3 separate regions of the Homo sapiens genome follow, and regions 1 and 3 are each linked to region 2. The links come from fine-mapping of genetic effects on gene expression. A gene starts in region 2. Each other region holds a variant in brackets. All regions are shown on one strand. Distances are between the middles of the regions.

Region 1 (2,770 bases), 730 kb after region 2:
ATTTATTTATTTCTTCTAGATTTTCTTGTTTATTTGCATAGAGGTATTTATAGTATTCCCTGATGGTTGTTTGTAGTTCTGTGGTATCAGTGGTGATATCCTCTTTGTCATTTTTTATTATGTCTGTTTGATTTTAATTTCTTTTCTTCTTCATTTGTCTAGCTAGTGGTCTATTTTATTATTTTTTTCAAAAAAAAAACAGCTCCTGGATTCATTGGTTTTTTGAAAGGTTTTTTGTGTCTCTGTCTCCTTCAGTTCTGCTTTGAGCTTCATTATTTCTTGTCTTCTGCTAGCTTTGGGGTTTGTTTGCTTTTGATTCTCTAGTTTTTTCAGTTGTGATGTCAGGATGTTGACTTGAGATCTTCCCAGCTTTCTGATGTGGTCATTTAGTGCTATAAATTTCCCTTTTAACACTGCTTTAGCTGCATTCCAGAGATCCTGGCATGTTGTCTCTTTGTTTTCATTAGTTTCAAAGAACTTCTTGATTTCTGCCTTAATTTCATTATTTACTCAGGAGTCATTCAGAAGCAGGTTGTTCAATTTCGATGTAGTTGTGTGGTTTTGAGTGAGTTTCTTAATCTTGAGTTCTAATTTGATTGCACTGTGGTCTCAGAGAGTGTTTGTTATGATTTCAGTTCTTCTGCATTTGCTGAGGAGTGTTTTGCTTCCAATTAGGCAATCAATTTTAGAGTAAGTTCCATGTAACACCAAGAAAAATGTATATTCTGTTGTTTTGGGTAGAGAGTCCTGTAGATACCTATCAGGTCCACTTGATCCAGGGCTGAGTTCAAGTTCTAAATATCTTTGTTCATTTTCTGACTTGACGATCCATCTAATATTGACAGTGGGGTATTAAAGTCTCCCACTATTATTGTGTGGGAGTCTACGTTTCTTTGTAGGTCTCTAAGAACTTGTTTCATGAATCTGGGTGCTCCTGTATTTAGGATAGTTCAGTTAAATTATTTTTCAAGAGATAAAATAAAATGAATTCTGAAGGCATTTACTACATAGATTATCACTAAAAGAACTTTAAAAATTTACTTATTCAAGAAGAAAATTAAGTACGAAATGTCATGAAATACAAAAATAAATTATGAATGAATAAACAAAAGAGTAAAGCTAAAAATAAATCATCTATTGTAAGACAGTAGCAAAAATAATAATTAAGGTATTTGAAATGCTAAGCATTCAGCAAGAAATCAGTGAATGACTTTAGAAATGTAAACAGTAATCTTAAAATCATAAAAATAGAATATGTAACTTCCAAATGCATGTGAATGGGAGGAAGGGAGGGTGACAAGGAGAGACGTACATAAATTAAATTTGAACAAGATAGTAGAAAGCAGAAAGAGAAAAGAGGCAAAGAAAAGAAGAAGCATGGCCAGTAAGAAGTACATAAAAAGATAATAGAAATAAATAGAGATCTATATGACTAATCACAGTTTATGTATACAAATCATACTCAATGTTTAATGACAGATTGTCATGAAACAGAGATTAAATTGACAGATTGTAAAAGTGACTCAAGAAAGCAAAATTCAGCTGTATGGAATTTA[C/A]AAGTGACTTACCTAAAGTCTAAGAAAGACACTGATGATCGAAAGTAAATAGATAGAAGAAATAAATAACAGGCCAATAAATGGCAAAAGAAAGTTGGAGTTGATATACTAATATCAGACAAAATTGACTTTATGGCAGGAATAATTATCAAAGATGAAGAGGAACACTATAGAATGAGAACAATTCACCCAAAAGATCTCTTAATTCTTAAATTGTATGCACCAATAACCCAGTCTTAAAAATATAGAGTAAAAGTTATCAAAATTTCAGGAAGAAATAGAGGAATAGAGGCCTCTATCCTGTTGTATACCTAATATATTTTATAATTTAAAAATGAGAGAATTTAATGTTCTTGAGTAGGTTTTACAATCTCTCAACTGCTTCAAAGGCAGAACTTTAAAACATCACACAAACTTCATCTGCCCCAAATTTTCCTTTTTTCTTGCACTTTTTAATTTTGTTTTTCCTGGAAAGAACTCTCCATAGCTACTGACATGATTTCTATTTCAATTATGTTTTGAACATCCTCTAGTCAGGCTTTCTACCATCATGTTTCAATGATCAAGGTGAACAATGAATCCCACATTGCCAAATAGTTATTAGTGTTTATGTCACCATATATTTAACACAATGGTTCTCTCTATCCTTCTCCAAGTGCCTTGTCTTTGTTATCTGATTTCTAAGGCCTCACACTGTTGACTTTCCTCCCACCAGACTGATTTCTATTCATGGTGGTTCTTAATGATTTATCTTTACCTTTCTGAACTCTAATATCAGAGTGCATTGGGATGTATCTTTGTCTCTCTTTCCTATCTATACTCAATTCCTAGGTTATCATATCAATTCCATGGTTTAAAACACCATTTATATAATGTGATTCCAACATTTATAACTCCAATATTATATATCCAACTACACATACCCATCATCTTTACTTGGATTTCTAATAGCCATCTCAAACTTGTGTTTCCAAACCCAAACTCTAAAATTCACACTCAGCTGTCCAAAGAAAATCCTCATTTAGCTCTGAGTGCTCCTCATCTTCAAATCCACTCATCTAGTTCCTCAGAACCAAACCTTGATGTCTACCTTCTTTCCTTTCTTTTTCTCCTATCTGACATTCAAACTGTCCCATAATCAGTTGGCCAGCAAATTACATAAACTTGTCCTTCAGCATATGTCCTAAATCCAACCACTTTTCACCTCCTCTATC
Region 2 (2,770 bases):
TGGATTTCACAATTTCACAATGCAATAAGAAGCCTATCTGATAGTGAGTAGCCTTTAAATTGTTGTTGTTATTATTTTATTGAGTCCTCTTTGTATTTACAAAGATTAAGGAGTTTCTAACCGTATCTACACTTGTAATAAATGTTATTCTTAGTCTTCACACTTGTAAAGGATAATGGTGATGAATGCAGCGGCAGAGGCTGCACGTTCCCACCCAGCACTCTCACTGAAGACTGCCTAATCAGCACTGGCTGCTGGTACTTTTCTCTGCAAGCTTAGTCTCTTCCAGGAATGACAGGTGGTAGGTAATCCTGGGAACTCAAGAGCCTCCTTGAAGCTTGGACTGATTAGAGCACAAACCATGAGCTGTTGAAATCTGGTCCCTGAACAGGAGAGTTTTTGACATGAAGCTGCTCTAGATTGCTGTAGGGCTGGGTCTCAGATCTGGTGTATCTGCCTGTTTCCATGAAAAGAGCGGAATCTTCAAAAATACTCAGGCTGTTTGTCTATTCCTCTAATAAAACTTCTATTGATGTTATATAGAATCTTGAGCAAAAGATTTGGCATCGCACCTTTTATGAGTTTCAATAAACCTTGTGATTTAAATAGTTTCATCATTGATGACAGTCTTTGGGTGAGGCCACAAGAGAGTCGCTTCTCGAGTGTCCATTAGTATATGGTGGGAAGACAGGAGGTCAATACTAAGGCTAGGAGTGAATTGCTACTGGTGCCTTCTTGCCTCAGACCAGCGGTCTTTTCGGTGTTCATGTCATAGATTGTTGAGGTCCCCTCGTTGTTTAATGTTTTGCCTCAGACTCCCGCCTGTAAACAGTACACATCTTTCTCCCTCACTTTAGCTGCTCATCATTTAAGCTGTCATTGGTCAGACATCCTAAACTTTCTCATTGTGACTAGGGCTCTGAGGGTTCCAGGGGTTCTAATTATTATCGTGGCTGCAGTGTAGGTGTCCATCACCGAGATGGGGCACCTGAGCTACTGAGCAGCCAGAAAAAAACTTTCTCCTTATCCTTGGCATCTGCCATCAGTTTAAGTACTGATTTAGGAATCTTTACGGCAAAGAAGAGGCTCTTCATCCCCGGCCCCATCCCCACCGCGCCCACCCGGCCCACATACACCCTCGGAGCCTGCTTTCCGCAGACTCCCCTATGTCCTGTCCTTGACTCCAGTTAACCTGGAGATGCTAGTTCTGGGAACTCCTAGAGGCTCTGTTGCCTCCTCCGCCTGCTCTGCGTTCCCCGCGTGAGCGCTGGATTATTCCAGTCTTTGAGCATGGCAGATTTCCACTGGATGACATCATGGGAGCCCAGTGAATGCCGGCTCAGAGAGGGGGACGGAGAAGGGGAGGGGGAGCAGAGGAGGGGAGAGGACTGGGGAGCCGAGCCAGAGCCGGGCTGCCTGCCACCCGGCTGCTCGTCCGCTAGCTGGGGAGGAGCGCTCCACCCGCAACTGACAAAGGATGGGAGAATGCCCGCGCCCCGGGATGCCGGCCGCACGCAGCCTGGCGGCCGCCTGAGCTACTTCACCCTCCGCCGGTAAGTGACTGCAAACATCATTCATTCAATCAGCCTCACTGGGAGCCCCTTCTCTCCGGCTGGTAGTCCTGGGCGGCTTGTCCCTGATCCCGAGCGGGGCTTGGCACAGCATCAGCCCTGGAGGGCAGGCAGCAGGTGCCTTTGCCTGGTGGGTCCACTGGGGAGCGTGGCTGGGGTTCGCGGCGGGTGCTGCCACCCAACCTGCGGGCGGCGGGCTCGCCCAGTAGGCGCCTCTCTGGTGAGAGGAGGCGGCTCCAGCCCGCAGCCTGGGGTAGTTGCTACTATTGGCCCCCAGCGCCCGCTCTGCGCGCGCGCCGTTTCTGGCGGATCCCCAGTGCGCGGCGCGCTGTTTACACCGGCGTGGTACTAGTCACGGAGCCGCACCCCTCGGAAAGCGCGGAGTCGATGACAGCCACTTCACAGGCTCACGCGCTCCTAGTGTGGGCTTGAAGGGGACGGGGACCGATTACCAAAGGAGAGCGCTGAGTACGGAAGACACAGGGCAGCCTTTGTCTTGGGTTTAGCGCTGATGCGCTCAACCCTGAGTCGGGTTCACTGCAACTGTTGTGTCCGATTTCGGTTCCCTGCAACCGCCCTCCTGGGCGAGAGATGTCATTGTGTTCCTGCGGCCAGCGGGACTGAGAGCTGGGACTTAAGACGCCAGGAGGGTCCTGCGCTCACGGGTGAGTGTCGCAGTTATCCAGGTGCTGAGGGAGTTTCTGGAGCTCCAGGAAGTGGAGTGACCAGTCGAGGCAGAGAGACGCCCAAGTTTTATCCCCAAATGGTGTGAGGGAAATGGCAAAGTTAAGGGAGACTCACTCTCGCTCTTTTCTCTGGTTTCTGAAGCGCTGATTTTGGAGATTTGTGACAGGTGAATGGAATCAGAGGCATGGCCAATATGTAGTTAGAGAGCCTCACGTTTTCCTGGCAATTCTTATTGTTATTCAGTAGTTCCAGAAAAGATTTGCTTGCTAAACATTTTTGAGATCAAAATGTTTTCTATTATAGAGCTCTGTGGGTTTGACGAAAAAAGATTCTGAACCTGCTCAGGTACCTTAGTTTAGAGTTGTCTCGCCTATAAGTGCTATATAGCCAACATGCCAACACCCAACCCCCTGGCTTTTTGCTTGGCGGACACAGGTTTTATTGATGAATTCCTTGTTTAGGAGGTTCAATTTTCAGATCACAAGGAAGCGGTGGTACCTATCAGAACATCT
Region 3 (2,770 bases), 980 kb after region 2:
TCTATCCCTTTTAACTAATTTCCATTTTTTATTAAAAAGAAGGAAGAAGCACTTTGGGAGGCCAAGGTGGGTGGATCACGAGGTCAGGAGATCGTTACCTTCCTGGCCAACACGGTGAAACCCCGTAACTATTAAAAAAAAAATACAAAAAATTAGCCGGGCATGGTGACGGGCGCCTGTAGTCCCAGCTACTCGGGAGGCTGAGGCAGGAGAATGGCGAGAACCCAGGAGGCGGAGCTTGCAGTGAGCCGAAATCGCGCCACTGCACTCCAGCCTGGGCGACAGAGCAAGACTCCGTCTCAAAAAAAAAAAAAAAAAAAAAAAAAAAAAGAAGAGTACTGTATTTAATGGAAAAAACAACAAAACTGTCAAAAGTTATACATAGATGCCAAATCTTAATTTTAAATTAGCTCCTTATGCCTTGTTGCTCAGGCTTCATTCTTTAATACTTTTATTTTGAATAATATTATATATGCTTTTAGAGGCTTGACTAGCTGTTTAAGTTTGTAATATTTGTTTATTAATAGTTGGTCTTAGAGGCATAAAGATTAGAAAAAGAATAATTTTAAAATACTAGTCTAAACCAAATTTGCCAAAACTTAAAATAACCAAGTTCCCCAAATTAGGAAATGGAAGTTTTTTTGTAAAGTTTCATGTGTTCAGGCAGTTGCTAAGACTGATGGAGTTAAATGTTAGACAAGAGCCTATCTTTCTTATGACTAGCTAAGGTTCATAAGTACTTTAATTTACTTCCATATCCTTTTGTCCTCAGAAAATGTATTTGTTCTCTTTCACTAAAATGTACCTTTAATCCATGCGAACCTGGTGCACCTTTTCTCTTACTTATTGATGTTTACCTTCTGGGTCTTAATTTTCTTTTATATTCTATATGGAAGCTTACAATGTAATCCATTTCCAACACTCCTTAATTAATTCCCTTCCAGTTGACCTTCCCACTAAGCAGATAAATTCAGTCTCCTCAGTGACCTGAATAAAGCATGTAGTCATGCTAATTCAATATATTCATGAATTAGGCTGAATCTGTCTTCAGTGAAATTTTAAGAGCAGTTTGAGTCTGGAAGCATTGCTGTAGTCTTCTCATGAACGCTGTATAGTAATTTTTGGACTCGATAACAAGTTTAATATTGGCTTTGCCAGCTTCATGTCTTTTACTGAAATGAAGAGATGAAATAAGCTATTCGGCAACTGACTGTAGATTCCAATTTCTAGCTTTCACCAACTCCATATTTCCCTGTAGACTTAATAAGCTTTATTGAAAACTCACCAAATCAGAATT[A/C]TCTTTCTTTTTGATTAAGGATCAGTAATTATCTCCTCATCAAATAATTATTATTTTGTGATGGAATTAAAAACAAATAAAAGATCTCATTGTTGATCACATGATATCATAACTGTGTTAGATTTAGAAAAGCAATTTCACTTAAAGGATATGATCCTAAGATCATAGTAAGAGATATAAATATGCCTAGAAAGGGTAGAATTCATTAGTGTATGCTTTCCACAAGTTAGGATAAACCTACACAGACAATATTTTCATTCATTTATTCATTCATTCATTCAACAAACATCTATTGTGCACCTATTATGTACAAGGCACAAAAGATTTATTATATACCCAAGTATTAGGGTAGGAAGTGTATGTTGTCACTTTTTTCTTGCCAAGTGTCTACTTGTGAATTTTAGGTTCTAAAATATCAAAATGTGGAAAATATGTATTGGATAAAGATTGTTTCAAATCTTAACACATTGGTGGACTTTTCACCTCCTAATTACATTAACCCAAGATGTCATTTTCTCCTTACTTTATGCTTACATTACCTAAAAGTGAAGAAATATGCCTAGGGATTTTGGGGGAAATGTAGAAAAGCCGTAATTTAAGGAAGCTTAAACTGGATTATGTAGACCAGGATAGACTAATGTTGAGCCTCATTTGCAAAGCTTTATCCCTCAATTTGGGCCTCTCCTAAAACCAGACTCTCATCTACTTCAGGAGTATCAAGTTTAAACAGATCACTAATTTGGAACCTAATTATGTGCTTTCACATAACAAGGTCAACAGGACTTTCTATATCATTAGGAAATAACATCGGTCACATTAAAAATTGTTAAGCATGTTTTTGAAATACTTTTGAAAGCTTCCTGGAATATAAATTTGATAGTATTTTATGTACTGAAACACTGAGAAAATTAAGGAAATAAAAACATATTATCTAAGAAAGTTATCTATTGAAATATACTACTTTAGAAATAGCACTTTATGGGCTCCAGTTTCAGAAGACCTCATCATAGAATATAAAAGTGTTCTTAAATTTCCTGGAATGGAGGAAAGACCCTCATTATATTTTACATAGTATTTGCTCCAAATCTTTTTGAGTTGCATGTAATTTCTTTTTTTTCTTTTAAATGAAACTAACAACTCTTTAGTTTTAAAAGGCACAACTCTGCAAAAGAGTCTCAAGCAACCACATAAACAACCATGTAGTTATCAGTGGTCAAGATGATGCAGTCTTATGTATATTCCTAAGTAAATCACATAGTAAATAAACAAGATTACAGTCACTCCATATTCTGGGAAGTAGCACTTCAGCAGAATTTTAAAAACTGATTTTATTTGAAATATATTCATCACAGTTCATGAGATATTACCTACTGGTTTTCTAATGCTGCCCTCTTTCCATAGTATGATTCTCATTGGGCTTTTGGTAAAGTGAATTTCCCTTTATGAAAGGATCCACTTTCGTTATTCCATACT

The links. PIP is the estimated chance that this variant, and not a neighbour inherited with it, causes the effect.
Region 1: its variant is the best candidate, but not a certain one, in a credible set for the expression of MARCHF1 in whole blood (TOPMed, PIP 0.52).
Region 3: its variant is the best candidate, but not a certain one, in a credible set for the expression of MARCHF1 in whole blood (INTERVAL, PIP 0.74).

The regions. Positions count from the first base shown.
Region 1 is chr4:163,653,551-163,656,320 of GRCh38, reverse strand. The region is part of intron 5 of MARCHF1 (membrane associated ring-CH-type finger 1); the gene reads left to right. Among named protein-coding and RNA genes, the nearest start is that of TMA16, 160 kb to the right of the region's middle. The variant C/A (reference allele first, on the strand shown) is at 1,557.
Region 2 is chr4:164,382,653-164,385,422 of GRCh38, reverse strand. MARCHF1 (membrane associated ring-CH-type finger 1) reads left to right here and starts at 1,404. Exons shown (of 10, transcript NM_001394959.1): 1 at 1,404-1,553. RefSeq lists an enhancer at 1,675-2,176.
Region 3 is chr4:163,406,515-163,409,284 of GRCh38, reverse strand. No RefSeq gene overlaps it. Among named protein-coding and RNA genes, the nearest start is that of NPY5R, 64 kb to the right of the region's middle. The variant A/C (reference allele first, on the strand shown) is at 1,298.